Regions from separate parts of the Homo sapiens genome. Here regions 1 and 2 are each linked to region 3. Evidence: fine-mapped expression QTL. A gene starts in region 3. Each other region holds a variant in brackets. All regions are shown on one strand. Distances are from middle to middle.

Region 1 (5,228 bases), 56 kb after region 3:
AAAATTCAAATATCTTAAAATGGTGTTTAAGACCTTAAATGATTAGGCACCTACTTACTTCTCTAGCACTATATTTTATTAGTTTTTAAGTCCAGCTCACATATGACTGTCTTTAAGCATCTTCCCAGATCTTCTTCTATTCCATTTACACCACTGGCACAACCTGATCACACTACATTAGAATGAGTAGTGTGCCCAGGAGACTGGCAGTCTTTTCAACTGGAGTGTCAGCTCTAGATACTCACTATGCAATTTCAAATACCTCCTCTGCTGAAATTGTGTTCTCTCCCTTCCCTGACCTCATTCTGTGTTTTCCCTCCTTTCTCTTAACACCTTTTATTCCAGCTAGTGCTGTACTGCTCTCCCCACTACAGACTGAAAGCTCCTGGAGGGCAGGACTGTGTGCCTCCTGCCATAGTCAGGTTTCCAACCTGTGTACCACTGGTCCTGGTGGTTTGCTCAGAGTAGTAGGTACTCAGTCAGTACTTGTCAAATGGGCAGATTGTGCCTATAAATATTTGTACTCATATTGCATTTCTGTCTTTTCCTTTTGATGATATAGTTTCATCATTTACAAGATGCTGTTATGATATTTATGTCTATTAGCCTTTCTGCTAAATAATTGCTTGGCGCTCCCTGTTTTTCTAAATTTGGTAAAAATATCATAAAAAAGCATTTGGTAAATTTCTCACAGAAAGCCAAACACTTTTATGATGTGAGAGACTTGATTTGTTGTATTTATATCAAGTCAATATTGGTTTAATCTTAAATTCACCATTCACCATCTTTTTTGTTTCTCGTTATCAAAACTCATTTTTTATGACTAATTTAATCATTGACTGAACTCACTCAACAGTTGCCCATAGTTACTAAAAGATACAAAATGATACTGTTTATAAGCATTTAGGTCAAAAATGTTCAAAAGAAAAATCAACTAAACTGATACTTTTAATTAGTATTTTGAGGGTTGAGGATTTTTAAAAATTTGTTTTTCACTGAAACTGCTTTGGTAAAAATCAGTACAAAAACAATTGATTTTTTAATTGTCTGGTTTGAAGAGACATGTTGGAGTAACAGAAACAGTCACAACCAAATGCAGCTTCTTCTGGTGGTACACTTCGTTCCATGATGTGGATCAGTTCTAAATATCATTCCAACTATTCTTAGATTCAAGTTATGATACTGTTTTGTTCTTTATATTTGGCTCTGTTTGTAACTCAACAAGTGTCTTGGGTAAGTCCCATGAGTAATAGAAACTGAGAGTAAGCTAGATCAGAAATACTGGATATGGACGATCATTATAAAATGCACATGTTGACTTCTCAAATTATGTCAAGTGACAAGGCTCTTTTTGACACATTAAAGTGATCTGCTCTCTTCAATACTTAATTTATTACTAATGAGGGACTGCAATTGCTTCAAATTAAGTAGCCTACACTTATCATAAGATCTGGCACATTTCTACTTCTGTTTTTAAAAGAATATTTGAAATTAAAAATGTAGAAAATTAGATGCATAAAAATGCATTGTCTAATCAATAACCATAATCATTACCAGCTGTCAAAATGTATCTTAAAATGTTATGAGCTAAATTATGCTGTAAAGACATGCATAATTTTTTATAGAGATTTAGCTGTATTTGTTGACCCATTGATCTCACTCCAGTACAGCATGAACCAAGGAAATAAAAGGGGAACAGAACATAATGGAAGAAAGAACACTTATCCAGGAGGCAAGAAACTCAGCTTAACCATTTATTGGCTGTCTGAATTTGGGCAAGTCACTCTCCACTGTATGTTTCCATTTTCCCACCTGTAACATGAGATGGTTGGACCTGAGCAAAGGTTTCTGACTGCCTGGTAGCCCATGCTGATTCCATGATTCAGCCCATGCTGAAAATTCAATTCAGTTCCGTTCAAGTCAGTTCAATCCAACAATCTTGAGGGACAGCTATTGAAGCAGAAGTTAAAAAGAGAAAAACAAGTTTTCCTATACTTGGCTGACTCACTCCAAGGCCAGCAATAGGCAGGGCCCTGGCAAAGTCTCAATAACACTATCTGGAAAGCCAGAGCCCAAAGGAATGAGCTCCGGAGACTCTCCCAACAAACCCCTCCCCCTCCCTGGAGCAAGGATAAGAAAAACAAATTCCTTTACTATCTCCTCTTCCCCCTTACCATTACTCAGTGTCTCAAGTTTTGTAAGTTCCTGTTTTCCCTTCCATGCAGCTGTAAGGTCACAAGCTATGCTTAGGTTACAAAACCTGTCACAGTTTGATTAACTGCCTTTGTTCTGCTTCTGTAAGCCTGCCTGCCCGCCTCACAGGTTTTGTGCCCTCAGTTTCCTGCCACTGCATTAAAACTAGCCAATTCCCTTTCAGAAGTGTATATAAAAGTCAAGCCCTGTGTTTGTTCAGGGCTCAGCCTTTGGATGTGAATCTGCTGTGCCAGTAGCCACCTAAATAAAATCCTCCTGTTCCACCCATTGGTCTCTCTGGTCTTCTGATTCCCACAACACTACAGCACCATATTATAACATAATACTGCCAAATGTAATATAATATAATATGAACATGATAAAAGTTTTTAAAATCAGATAAGAATTTGACTCAACTTACAATCTATATGATCATAAAGAAGCCAATTCAAGGGAGGTAGAGGAATATGGTGGAATAGAAAGCTTCACTGATAGTTCCCCCAGCAAGGACATCAGATTAACAGCTATCTACTCAGAAAACACACCTTTATAAGAACCAAAAATAAGGTGAGCACTCAGTACCTGGTTTTAGCTTCATATCACTGAAAGAGGCACCAAAAAGGTAGAAAAAACAGCCTTGAATTGCTGATGCCACCCCTCCTCAATCTCTGGCAGTGGAATCCTGGTACAGAGAGTATCTCTGGGCACTGGGGGAGGGAGAACACAGCAATTGTGAAGCATTGAACTCAGTGCTGCTCTGTTAGAGCAGAAAAGAAAAACCAGACCAAACTCAGCTGATGCCTGCCCACAGAGGGAGCATTCAAATCAGCCTTAGCCAGAGGGGAATTTCCAATCCCAGTGGTTCAAACTTGAGTGCCTGCAAACCTTGCCACCCAGGGCCAAAGTGCTCTTAGTCTCTAACTAAACTTGAAAGGCATTCTAGCCCATAAGCACTGCAACTCTTA[G/A]GTGAGTTCAAGGGCTTAACTAGGCCTAGAGATAATGGATTAGAAGGCCACATGACATACTGTGACACCAGCTTTGGCAGGCAAAATGTGCTGGCATCACCCCTCCCCTAATCCCAGGCTGCACAGCTCACAGCTCCAAAAAAGACCCTTTTCTTCCTCTTGAGGAGAGTAGAGAGAAGAGTGGGGAGGATCGTTTCTTGCACCTGAAATACCAGCTTAGCCACAGCAGGATATGGCACCAGTCAGAGTCAAGAGGCTCCCATTCCAGGCCCTATCAGCCAGATGATATTTATAGATATACCCTGGGCCAGAAGAGAACCTATTTGAAGAAAGGGATCCAGTCCTGCTAGCATGGGCTCTGAATAACCAGCAGTAATATCCAGGTGCTATGCTACATCAAGGGTTTTGGTGAGCCTCTGAGACTTGCTGGCTTCAAGTACCAACATCACCACAGGGGTGTAGAGCAGCAAGTCAAGACTGTTTACTCTTGAATGACATTTCTGGACCTGCCCTGTGACAGAGGGGAGTGCACTGCCCTGAAGGATGAGTCCCAGGACAGACAGCACTCACCACAAGCTGACTTAAGAGACCTTGAGACTTAAGGGAAAATCAGTGGTAGTCTGGCAGTACTCCTTGTGGCCAGGGGTGGCTCCTCTGCCTTTGGAAAAGGGAGGGAAGAGTGGGAAGGACCAAAGCAAATATGGACAAATGGGATCACGTCAAGTTAAAAAGCTTCTGCACAAAAGTTACAATCAACAAAGTGAAGAGACAACCCACAGAATGGAAGAAAATATTGGCAACTACCCTTCTGACAAGGAATTAATAACGAGAATATATAAGGAGATTAAACAGCACTATAGAAAAAAATCTAATAATCTGATCAAAAGATGGACAAAATATTTGAATAGATATTTCTCAAAAGAAGTCATACAAATGGCAAACAGACATATGAAAATGTGCTCAACATTAGCATCAGAGAAATGCAAATATAAACTACAATGAGATATCATTTCACCCCAAATGTCTTGGATATGGCTTATATCCATAAAACAGGCAATAATAAATGCTAGCAAGTATGTGGAGAAAAGGGAACTCTTGGACACTGTAGGTGGTAATGTAAATTAGTATAACAACTATGAAGAACGTTTTGTACGTTTCTAAACCAAGTGATTTGAGAATCACAATGACCAAGAGAGAAATTTCAACTTGGAGACTCAGAGGAAGACACATATATTCTTTCAGTGATCATTTACTGAACTGCATTGTGCTAAGCAGGGGTAAAGTGATGGATAAGAAGAAACACTTGCCTTTCTTCACAAAACCAATGAAGATATTTTGAAACGTTTTTATTCATTGACTCCCGTTAAAAAGCTGATGAAAAGAAAAGATTCTATCCCTAAAAATATGGGCACATGATTTTGCATTTAAGTGTAAAGAGTTCAAGAACTCTTTGGAAATTTATTCTTACATCCCCCAGGCACATGGACTCCAGATTCAAACCTCCTAATTTAGTTGGGGGTTTTATTTAAAAAGGTAGCATTTGAATAAAGTCCTGAAAAATGGTTCGAATTTCAGATGGGAGCAAAGAACAGTGTTCTTGGACTTTGAACCTGTGATGGTTATTATTAAGTGTCAACTTGATTGTATTAAAGGATGCAAAGTATTGTTCCTGGGTGTGTCTGTGAGGGTGGTGCCAAAGGAGATTAACATTTGAGTCAGTGAACTGCTAGAGGTGGACCCACCCTCAATCTGGGTGGGCACCTTCTAATCAGTTGCCAACATGGCTAGGATAAAAGCAACAATACGTGGAAAGACTAGACTAGCTACGTCTTCTGGCCTCCATCTTTCTCCTGTGCTGGATGCTTCCTGCCCTCGAACATTGGACTTCCAAGTTCTTCAACTTTTGGACTCTTGGACCTATACCAGTGGTTTGCCAGGGGCTCTCGGGCCTTTGGCCACAGACTGAATGCTGCACTGTCGGCTTCCCTACTTTTGAGGTTTGGAACTCAGACTGGCTTCCTTGCTCCTCAGCTTGCAGACTACCTATTGTGGGACTTCACCTTACGATCG
Region 2 (5,228 bases), 740 kb before region 3:
TCCCAAACCTCAATTTTTGACTTCTGTGTACCCACAGGCCCAATACCAAGTGTAAGCTGCCAAAGCTTGGGCCTTGCACCCTCGGAAGCAACGGCCTGAGCTCTACATTGGCCCCTTTTAGCTATGGCTGGGACACAGGGCACCAAGTCCCGAGACTGCACAAAGCAGCAAGGCCATGGGCTCAGCCCTCGAAACCATTTTTTCCTTCTATACCTCCTAGCTTGTGATTAGAGGGATGGCCTGGAAGACCTCTGAGTGCCCTGGAGATATTTTCCCCATTGTCTTGGCAATTAATGCTTGGCTCCTAGTTACTTATGCAAATTTCTGTAGCTCTCTTGAATTTGTCCTCAGATAATGGGTTTTTCTTTTCTATTGCATTGTCAGGTTGCCAATTTTCTAAACTTTTATGCTCTGCTTCCCTTCTAAACATAAGTTTCAATTCCAAACCACATCTTCGTGAATACATAAAACCGAATGCTTATAACAGTACCCAAGTCACCTCTTCAATGCTATGCTGCTTAGAAAATTCTTCTGACAGATGCCATAAATTATTTCTTTCAAGTTCAAATTTCCATAAATATCTGGAGCAGGGGCAAAATGCCCCCAGTCTCTTTGCTAAAACATAGCAAGAGTCATCTTTGCTCCAGTTCCCAAAAAGTTCCTCATCTCCATCCAAGACCACCTCAGCCTGGACTTTATTGTCCATATCACTATCAGCATTTTGGCCAAAGCCATTCAACAAGTCTTTAGGAAGTTCCAAACTTTCCTACATTTTCCTGCCCTCTTCTGAGCCCTCCAAACTGTTCCAACCTCTGCCTGTTACCCAGTTCCAAAGTCACTTCCAGCAGCATCCCACTTTACCCATACCAATTTACTGTATTAGTCTGTTTTCGCACTGCTAATAAAGACGCAGCCAAAACTGGGTAATTTATAAAGGAAAGAGCTTTAATTGACCCACTGTTACGCATGACTGGGGAGGCCTCACAATCATGGTGGATGGCACATAAGGAGCAAAGTCATGTCTTACATGGAGGCAGGCAAGAGAGCTTGTGCAGGGGAACTCCCATTTATAAAACCATCAGATCTTGTGAGACTTAATTACTACCATGAGTACAGTATGGGGGAAACTGCCCCCATGATTCAATTATCTCCACCTGGCCCCACTGTTGCCATGTCAGAATTATTGCAATTTAAGGTGTGGTTGGGCAGGGGTACATCCAAACCATATTAGTAACTTATTAAAAAACTGAGTAGTCTTATTATGAATTGTTTTTTCAAAACATGGAGTTTGGCCATGTTGAATTTGTGCTGCCTCCATTGCTCCTGTGAACACCTGTGCAGAGACAGGAACTCCAGCATCTGCTAGCACCCTGCTGCAGCCAATGAGTGTGCACTCTGCCACAATGATGCTGCCACTGCTGCTGGCGTGTGTGAACAAGAACAAAGGCAGGCACAAAGGCCACCAGAACTGCCCCCGCCAATGTCTCCACCCAGTGCCAACACTGCAGCCAAAGTGAAACTAGACAAAGAAAACAATGGAACCTCCCCTATCCTGGGCTGTCACCCTTGCCTGCATAAATATTCACAGAGGATGCACACAGATCTGCATTTGCCAGTGACCTGCTCCAGTACTAACACCACCACAAGCACACAGAACGCACAGTCACCAATAGGAGTCCCCACTGCCTCCCCCCAGCTGTGTTGCCTCCATTGCTGTTTTGAACACCTGCACAGAGGCAGGAACCCCAGCATCTGCTCAACTCTGCTGCAGCCAATGAGCATGCACCCTGCCACTGTGAGGCTGTCACTGCTGCTGGCATGTGTGAACAAGGACCAATCCTGCTACCACCACCCTACAAAATTCTTTGCCCAGCACAACCCATCAGAGTGCTTGACCAGAAGTCTGACAGCTCTTCAGCATCCCCATCACAGTGGGTTTCTAAACTCAGGGAGCCAGAAAAAAAAATTGGAGCCCAATACAAGTTTCCAGAGTCAGAGCATGCAGCACACGGTTATGTCCTGAGCCATAGCTGCCTAAAATCTTCCAGAAATGAAGCCAGTCAACTGAATACACCTTATATCACAATAAAATTCTCAAGGTCATAAAATGGACATAACATATTCAAAGGACAGCAACTTCACAGATTTAAGGAACATCAACCTACAGAGATGAGAGAGAACCAGCATAAGAACTCTGAAAACTCAAAAAGCCAGCATTACTTCTTTCCTCCCAATGACAGCACCACTTCTCCAGAAAGGGTTCTGAAGCAGGCTGAGATGGCTGAAATGACAGAAATAGAAATCCGAATATGGATAAAAATGAAGAACACTATTCCTATTCAACATAGTATTGGAAGTCTTGCACAGAGTAATCAGGTAAAAGAAAAAAAAATTAATGGCATCTGAATAGGAAGCTACTAAGTCACACTATATCCCTTTCCAGACAACATTATTCTATATATAGAAAATCCCATAGTCTTGGCCCAAAATCTCCTTCCGCTGATAACTTAAGCTAAGTCTCAGGG[G/T]AGAAAATCAACCTATAAAAATGACTAGCACTCCTATACGCCAACAACAGTCAAGCTGAGATCCAAATCAGGAAAACAATTCCATTCACAACTGCCATAAAAACAAAAAATACCCAGGAATACAGCTAACCAGGAAGGTGAAAGATCTCTACAATCAGAACTACAAACCATTGCTCAAAGAAATCAGAGATGCCACAAACAAATTAAAAAACATTCCATGCTCGTGGATAGGAAGAATCAATATTGTAATAATGGCCATACTTCCCAAAGCAATTTATAGATTCAATGCCATTCTTATTAAACTACAATTGAGATTCTTCACAGTACTAGAAAAAGAAATTAAATTCATATGGAACCAAAAAAGAGTCCAAATAGTGAAGGCAATTCTAAGCAAAAAGAATAAAGCTGGAGACAGTGCACTACCTGACTTCACACTATATTCCAGGACTACAGTAACCAAAAGAGCATGATACTGCTACAAAAACAGACGCATAGAACAATGTAACCGAACAGAGAGCCCAGATATAAGGCTGCATACCTACAACCATCTGATCTTCTACAAAGCTGACAAAAACAAGCAATGGGGAAATGACACTCTATTAAATAAATGGTGCTAGGATAACTGGTTAGCCATATGCAGAAGATTGAAACTGGACCACTTCCTTACACTATATACAAAAATCAACCCACATTGGATCAAAGACTTAAACGTAAAACACAAAACTATAAGAACCCTGAAGACAACTTAAGCAATACCATTCTGGACATAGGAACAGGCAAAGATTTCATGACAAAGATAACAAAAGCAATCCAACAAAAGCAAAAATTAACAAATGGGATTTAATTAAACTAAAGAGCTTCTGCACAACAAAAGAAACTATCAAAAGAATAAACAGACAACCCATAGAATGGGAAATTTTTCTTTCAAACTATGCATCTGACAAAGGTCTAATATTCAGCATCTGTAAGGAACTTAAACAAATTTATAAGAGAAAGGACAAGCAACCCCCGATATGATTTGGCTCCGTGTCCCCACCCAAATCTCATCTCAAATTATAATCCCTATGTCAAGGGAGGGACCTGGTGGGATGTGATTGGATAATGGGGTTGGTTTCTGCCATGCTGTTTTCATGATAGTGAGTGAGTTCTCACAAGATCTGATGGTTTAAAAGTGGCACTTCCCCCTTAGTGCTCTCTCTCTCCTGACACCATGTAAGATGTGCCTGGCTTCCCCTTTGCCTTCCACCTGATTGGAAGTTTCCTGAGGCCTCCCAAGCCCTCTGGAACTGCATGTGAATTAAAACTTTTTTCTTCATAAATTACCCAGGCTCTGGTCATTGTTTATAGCAGTGTAAAAAGCAACTAATACAACCCTCTTAAAAAGTGGGCAGTGGACATAAACAAATATTTTTCAAAACAAGACATATATGTGGCCAACGAACATCTTAAGAAAAAGCTCAACATCGCTGATCATTAGAGAAACGCAAAGAAAAACCACGATGAGATACCATCTCAAACCAGTCAAAATGGCTATTACTGAAAAGTCAAACAATGACAGGTGCTAGCATGGTTGTGGAGAAAAAGGACCACTTAAACACTGTTGCTAGTAGTGTAAATTAGTAAAACCATTGTGAAAAGTAGTGTGGCAATTCCTCAAAACCTAAAAACAGAACTACTTTTTGACCCAGGAATCCCATTACTGGGTATTTAGCCAAAGGAATATAAATTGTTCAATTATAAAGACACATGCATGCGTATGTTCATTGCAGCACTATTTGCAATGGCAAAGACATAAAAGAAACCTAAATGCTCATCAGTGGGGACTGAATAAAGAAAATGTGATACATATACACCATGGAATACTATGTAGTCACAAAAGAAGAATAAGATCATGTCCTTTGCAGGAACATGGATTGAGCTGCAGGCCATTATCCCTAGCAAACTGACACAGGAACAGAAAACAAAGTGCCACATGTTCTCACTTATAAGTTGGAGCTAAATAATGAGAACACATGGACACACAGAGGTAATAACTGACACTGTGGCCTAACGCAGGATGGGGGTGAGAGGAGGGAGGTGATCAGGAAAAATAACTAATGGCTACTAGGCTTCATACCTCGGTGATGAAATAGTCTGTACAATAAAGCCCCATGACATGACTTTACCTATAAAACAAACCTGCACTCAAACCCTTAAACTTACAATGAAAATTAAAAAAGTAAAACAATAGAAATATAATAAAATGATACTGACAAATGTCATGTAGAAGAGGGCCATATAAAAATGTCTTCACATTTTAATATTATTCTGTAACTACTATAAGGCTTATTTACTAACTTTTGGCTCTTGCCTGTGTTCCAGAGCATTGAACTTGTTAGATAAGGGGTTTCTAGGGAAGTAAAGTGCTCTTATGCTTGTTATGAGCTGTATCACCCTCTGCAATTTTCTTTTTTGTTTTTTTTTTTAGACGGAGTTTTGCTCTTTTTGCCCAGGCTGGAGCGCGATGGCGCCATCTTGGCTCACCGCAACCTCCACCTCCGGGGTTCAAGCGATTCTCCTGCCTCAGCCTCCCGAGTAGCTGGGATTACAGGCATGTGCCACCATGCCTGGCTAATTTTGCTGCAATTTTCAAAATTCCATTTTTGTTTGCCTGAATAAATTAAAAAACCCTCAAATCAACTGATTTCCTATAGGAAGGGGATA
Region 3 (5,228 bases):
ACATCAATTTTGTTTTTCTTTCAATGGCCATAAATAGTGCTGGAGTTTTCTTAACACTTTTATTTATGTATATATTCACTTCCTTTGTTAAGCTAGCAATTCTGTGTCATTTCCTACTGTTCTATTGGGATGTCACCTGTAGTTCTAGGGGACGGAAAAGGGACTGTGGGACTAAAGGATTGGGTTAATTACTTTGAAAGCAAAATAAGCATAAAACATGGAAGTTGTTACTTCTGTTTTATTTTATGAGTGTCCACTTTATCTTTTTAAGTAGCAAAACATTTTATTTTAAAGCATTCATTTAAAAAAGTTGAATATTAATCACAGATAAGTTCTTAGGAATATTATGAATTGTAATTTATCGATGATCTAGCTACAGTGGCTTTCAGATTTGTCTCCATATCCATATGAAAAATAACATTTCACAGTTATTGCAGTTAAATATAGCCAAGTCTCAGAACAGTTTCTAAAGTTGAATAAAGATAGGCATTTAAATCATCTGATATTTACTGTCCAAATCTGGCCTTTTCAGTTATCACATTACTTAGAATTTTCAGGTAAACTTTTTTTGCTCATTCTATTGACTCTTGTTAACATTTGTAGTAAAAGACAAACATTTCACCTATCTGGATAAAATATATTCAGCTTCCTGAATTGTTAGCATTTAGAATAAATGCCAACTTGTTTTGATACCCATTACTACTTTCAAACTGCATTACACAATAAAATGCAAATGTGAGTTATTAATTAGCAGGATCTGTTTTGTCCAAGTGTGCAAGAGTAGAGGGATTTTTCAACATTCTGCAGCTGTTACCTATGAAGGAAACATCATTCACTTTGCTAAAAGGAGCTGCACAATTACATACGCTGTTATAGACAAATATTTTAGTGTTTCCTTAATGCTATTTCATAATGGATTTCACATTGAATAAGATAAATTTTACCAATGCTGCCCAATTTCTGTCTCTAGGTTGTTTGTAAAAGAGAGGATGATTACAGTTTTCAAGGCAATGTGGAGTGAAGGTAGAGAAAGAGTTCTTCATGAACGACACAATATTTAGCAAGGTCATAAAGAAATATGCCCATACACGCATATCTATTTAAGTATTCATTTACATATTGTACGTGCATCTCTGTATACATGTTGTGCCCGGTGAACATTTGTGTGAATATAACCTGACGGAAGTCCCATAAAATGACAAAAAATGAAAAACAATGAAACATGTATATGAATGACTACTATAGATGATACAGAAGGTAGACCATTATTCACAAATAATGTAATAAATCCTTTGCCCATCAGATGTTTCTACCTAGATTTGGGGCCTTTAAACATCAACCAATTATGGTAAATGTTTAACTGTAGGAGTTCAGGCAGACAGCCAAATTCTGGTTTCAAAGCTGTTGCTAGTTTTAGCTTAAAGATTTTTTTTTTCATTTTTAAGCAAGAACATTTCTGGATACCGGTTGTGCTCTATTGTGGCTAGAGCCGCTGGGATTTGAATAAGTAAATTGGGCAACACACTGGTCCTGAAGAAATGGGCCTGGCAGTATTACCTGAATGTGGCAAATAATAGGCTACCAAGAGTCCTAGGGAAATACTTCCCATTTATAACTTAGCTCTACTTACCTAAAGCTAGTTTATTCCCACAGACACGAAGAGAGAGAGAGTTGTTTTTCTTAGCCAAGCTCCTACAAAAAACAGCAAGGTTGGGGGATGGGAGCACATCCAATGTTTATGCCTTTTGTTTAGGAAAGCCAGGTATCTGAAATACATACATGATAGCCAACTCCTCTCTGCTCCCCTCCCCCAGGTTTATTTATTTTCTTAACAAGCTTATTAACGAAATTATCAATTTGCATGAAACTGGTTTGAACATTGGCCCTTCCTCAGAATATTTCTTATCTCTTGTGGAAGCACTAACAAAAAGGGTAGAAGAAGGGGCCTAGACAATCCACACGTTGGATTTGCAGCCACTGGATATTTCAGATTCAGCTGCTAAAGCCTCTTTGGTATACACAATGAGGGGCGACTGAAGTGACTTTTCTTAGTCCATTTCCTCTCCTTCTCCCCGTCTCCCGAAGGTACTCCGTGGGTCCCTTCCCTTTCTCTCTTCACAGTCCCTCCTGAGCAGTCCCAAAGCTTCAAACCTTGTTCTCCAACCCCCTTTCCCTAATGTCTCCCAACTACCACCCCCTTCCCCAGTCAAACTCCCCTCCCGGTCACCACCAAAGCCCGGAGAAGTGGAATGCACACAATGCCTCCCTTATAGGGCTTGAGCTGGGAACTGGGCATGCTCAGTAGCCAAAGTAGTTTTTTTTTTTTTTTTTCTTTTGGTCGCAAGTGCGGCATCTCTCCCAGTCCCACGCCTCTCTTTCCTCAACCCCTATCCCCTATCCCCTATCCCCACCCCCAGCTCCAAGATCATCCGGCTTAACCCATTCTGCACCAAAGGCCCACGGAGTTCTAAGGTGCGGATAATTAACCCGTCTCCTTCTAACCCGGCTAAATAGTCTCACTTTAGGCTAAAGCCTCACACTTTCGCCTTAAAGCCCCTGGCCCCTTACGCGCAGACAGGTAGGGGGAGTGCGAATACTACTGGATCCTAGGAAATTGGTTCCCAAGAAGGCTCCTTCCAGGATCGACCGCCACGGAGAAGTATTCCAGGAGCCCTCCGTTCTGCGGGGTGACAATTAGCCAAAGGTACCGTACCCGTGATACAAAATCCAAGTATGATTGTTGCATTTGAATGTCATTGTTGTTGACTCATTCCCCTCCATCCTGTAATTATTCAATTCCGCGTAGACTCGACGACCCTATCGATCTCCCTCGGCCCCCCTCCCCCAGGCTCTCCAGTGTTTCTTTGGCTTTTCCTGGCTTCTTGGTTGCTCTCTCAAAGGAATGCCCCGTGTGTGTGTGTGTGTGTGTGTGTGTGTGTGTGTGTGTGTGTGTGTGTTCCTTCGTTATTAGGGGACTGGAAGAGAAGAAAAGGGCTCGAGTGTGTGTGTATGTGGTGGGGGGGATGGAGGCGAGTGCGCCCTTGTTAGAGGACTGGGGTCTCCACGCCTGAGGAAAGGGGTCGCTCCTCCCTAGGGAATGTTTTAGGCAAAAAGAGGGGGCGGATGCCGGGAGGAAAGCGCGCTGTCTTTCTGGGTGTGTGGGTAGAAGAGGAATCAAATGGGCATGTCTGGATGGGGGACGGGGGTAGGAGCTCAGGAATGTGAGGGGGTCAAAGTGGTCGAGTGTCGGGAGGAAGGACTGCTTGTGTGCGGGGTGGGGGGGGGTGGTGGAGAGCGGGGGCGGGGATTCAGCGCGTGTATGTAAAGGTGCAGCCCGTGTGCTAGGCGCTGGGTGCGCGCGCGGTGTCTGCTCGGGTGCGCGCGCGCGCCGCTGCCCGCCTGCCCGCCGGCCCGCCTGCTCGCCTGCTGGGGCTGCTCCGTGGGTTTGACGGGCGAGCGGGCGCGGAGGAGCTCTGTCCGGAATCACATAGATACCATCGTGGAAACAGCAGCGCAGGTCACGGCGCCGCGGGCCCTGCACCAGACGCTGGGCTCTAGAGGTGGGTGAATTTTCAGCGGGGGCTGCACAAGCTGCACCGACACGCGTGCTGCCTCTTCCCCGCTCAGCTCAGTAGCGCGTGTGCGTGCGTGTGTGTGTGTGAGAGAGAGACAGAGAGAGAGAGAGAGATCTCGCGCGCGCGCACGCGAGCCGAGGGGGCAGGTAGCTTATTATTTTTAGTTTGGGTCCTGTTGGTTTGGGGCCGGTTGAGTGGCCAAAGTGGCCGAGGTGGCTAATCCTGCCCTCCACCTCCCACTTGCCTGCCTACGACGCGGTCTCATGCCGCTGAGGACCGGAAAGGATCCGGGTGTCCTTGGCATCGCTGCCCGCCCCCCCCCCCACCATACCCCAAGCGGCCAGGGCGGCGGGGCAAGTTGTACAGGTCTCGGGTGGCTCCGGCTGTCGGGCCGCTGGGCTGGGTTGGGCTTTATTTTTGCACCCCACTCGCAGCCACTTTCCGCAGACGTGGATCTGAGGCTCGGGGCAGTGGCCCGCGGGTTGGTCGGAGATTGCTAGCGCTCGGCAAGACTAGGAATACCAGAGGAAGAGCCGGTGGGTAACTCTAAAAGCTCTGCAAAGCCAGGCGAGCGCTGCCAGCGCGACTTTGCAAGGGGCCTAAATGTTGAGCTGATTTCTGGCATGGTGAGAGCAGGATTTTTGTAGCTGGCCAGGGAGGGAGAACAGGCAAGGGGGAGCCTGGGCCGCCGCTCGCAGCCACAAAACCACAGGGTCACTCTGCCCGTGGCAAGCAGGTCAGTGACTCCCTAGTGCCAACGTCTTCGAGGCGGCCTGATCTGGCCTCTCTTCCTCCTCACCCACCGCACGCCTGGGTCTAGAGAGGTCCACTGAAACTCCGGCAGCTGCCCCTTGTGGGACGGGAGCGCGCGGAGAAATGTGTGAGCGGCGGGACTGAAGGCCCCCGCGACATCCCGCGCGGTACCCCGCCTCCGCTACACGGACCGCCAGGCTGCTGCTTGGGCCCCTGACGCGGAGGGGGCTGAGCGGCCGGCTCCGGGAACAGGGATGCGGCAAAACATTGCGGTACGCGCTAGCAGCCCCTCCAGCCTCCTCGCCGCCCGCCCGAGGTAGCGCACCCGGGCGGCAATGGCCGGGTCTCTCCGCGAACCTCTTCCACCTCCATCCGAGCCTTAGGCGGGCCAGCGGGGTTTCCCGAGGGAGCTCTCGGGGAGCCACCTCGGCCCACCGCCCTGAAGCCCATCAGTGTTCTGCCCCCCTCAGGCCGCTTCTCTCCTCCCAGTCGCGGAGTGCCAGGCGCTGCACTCCGGTGGATGCAGGATTTGTTTTTGGTCGGGCTAGGTTTGTTCAGTCCTGGCTGGTCGTGAGAGCCAAGGGTCTTTCAGGGCACCGAGAGGAAGACGGACAGCTCCCAGCAGCCACAGAGAAGGCTCTTGGTACCCAGCTGGTACTTTGTGGGCTTTTTCTTTTCTTTTTTGCGTTTTTCCCTTGATGTTTAAATGTGCATGTTTCAGTGGTACCACCGGAGTGTGAGGCTTTATTCGCATACATTCAGTGCTCCCTTTACCCTCTTTGTAGCTCCCTTCTCCGAGTTCTTTTTCTTCCTTTCTCCACATTTCCATGGTCTCTTGCCCTTTCAGTACCTCTTTTCCTCTCTCCTTGGTGGACCAACTGGACTCTTTCTCTCTCTTGC

Direction of the effects. Alleles are on the strand shown, and positions count from the first base shown. SD is a standard deviation of normalised expression in the study named. Not every link is listed here.
In carriers of allele G in region 2, the expression in esophagus mucosa of the gene that starts at base 2,338 in region 3 tends to be lower than with T alone (small effect, 0.29 SD a copy in GTEx).

What was found. PIP is the estimated chance that this variant, and not a neighbour inherited with it, causes the effect. A credible set is the group of variants that fine-mapping cannot tell apart.
Region 1: its variant is the best candidate, but not a certain one, in a credible set for the expression of SLITRK4 in whole blood (TOPMed, PIP 0.76).
Region 2: its variant is the best candidate, but not a certain one, in a credible set for the expression of SLITRK4 in esophagus mucosa (GTEx, PIP 0.57).

The regions. Positions count from the first base shown.
Region 1 is chrX:143,577,444-143,582,671 of GRCh38, reverse strand. No RefSeq gene overlaps it. Among named protein-coding and RNA genes, the nearest start is that of SLITRK4, 56 kb to the left of the region's middle. The variant G/A (reference allele first, on the strand shown) is at 3,159.
Region 2 is chrX:144,375,595-144,380,822 of GRCh38, reverse strand. No RefSeq gene overlaps it. Among named protein-coding and RNA genes, the nearest start is that of SPANXN2, 660 kb to the right of the region's middle. The variant G/T (reference allele first, on the strand shown) is at 2,526.
Region 3 is chrX:143,633,211-143,638,438 of GRCh38, reverse strand. SLITRK4 (SLIT and NTRK like family member 4) reads left to right here and starts at 2,338. Exons shown (of 2, transcript NM_001184749.3): 1 at 2,338-2,704.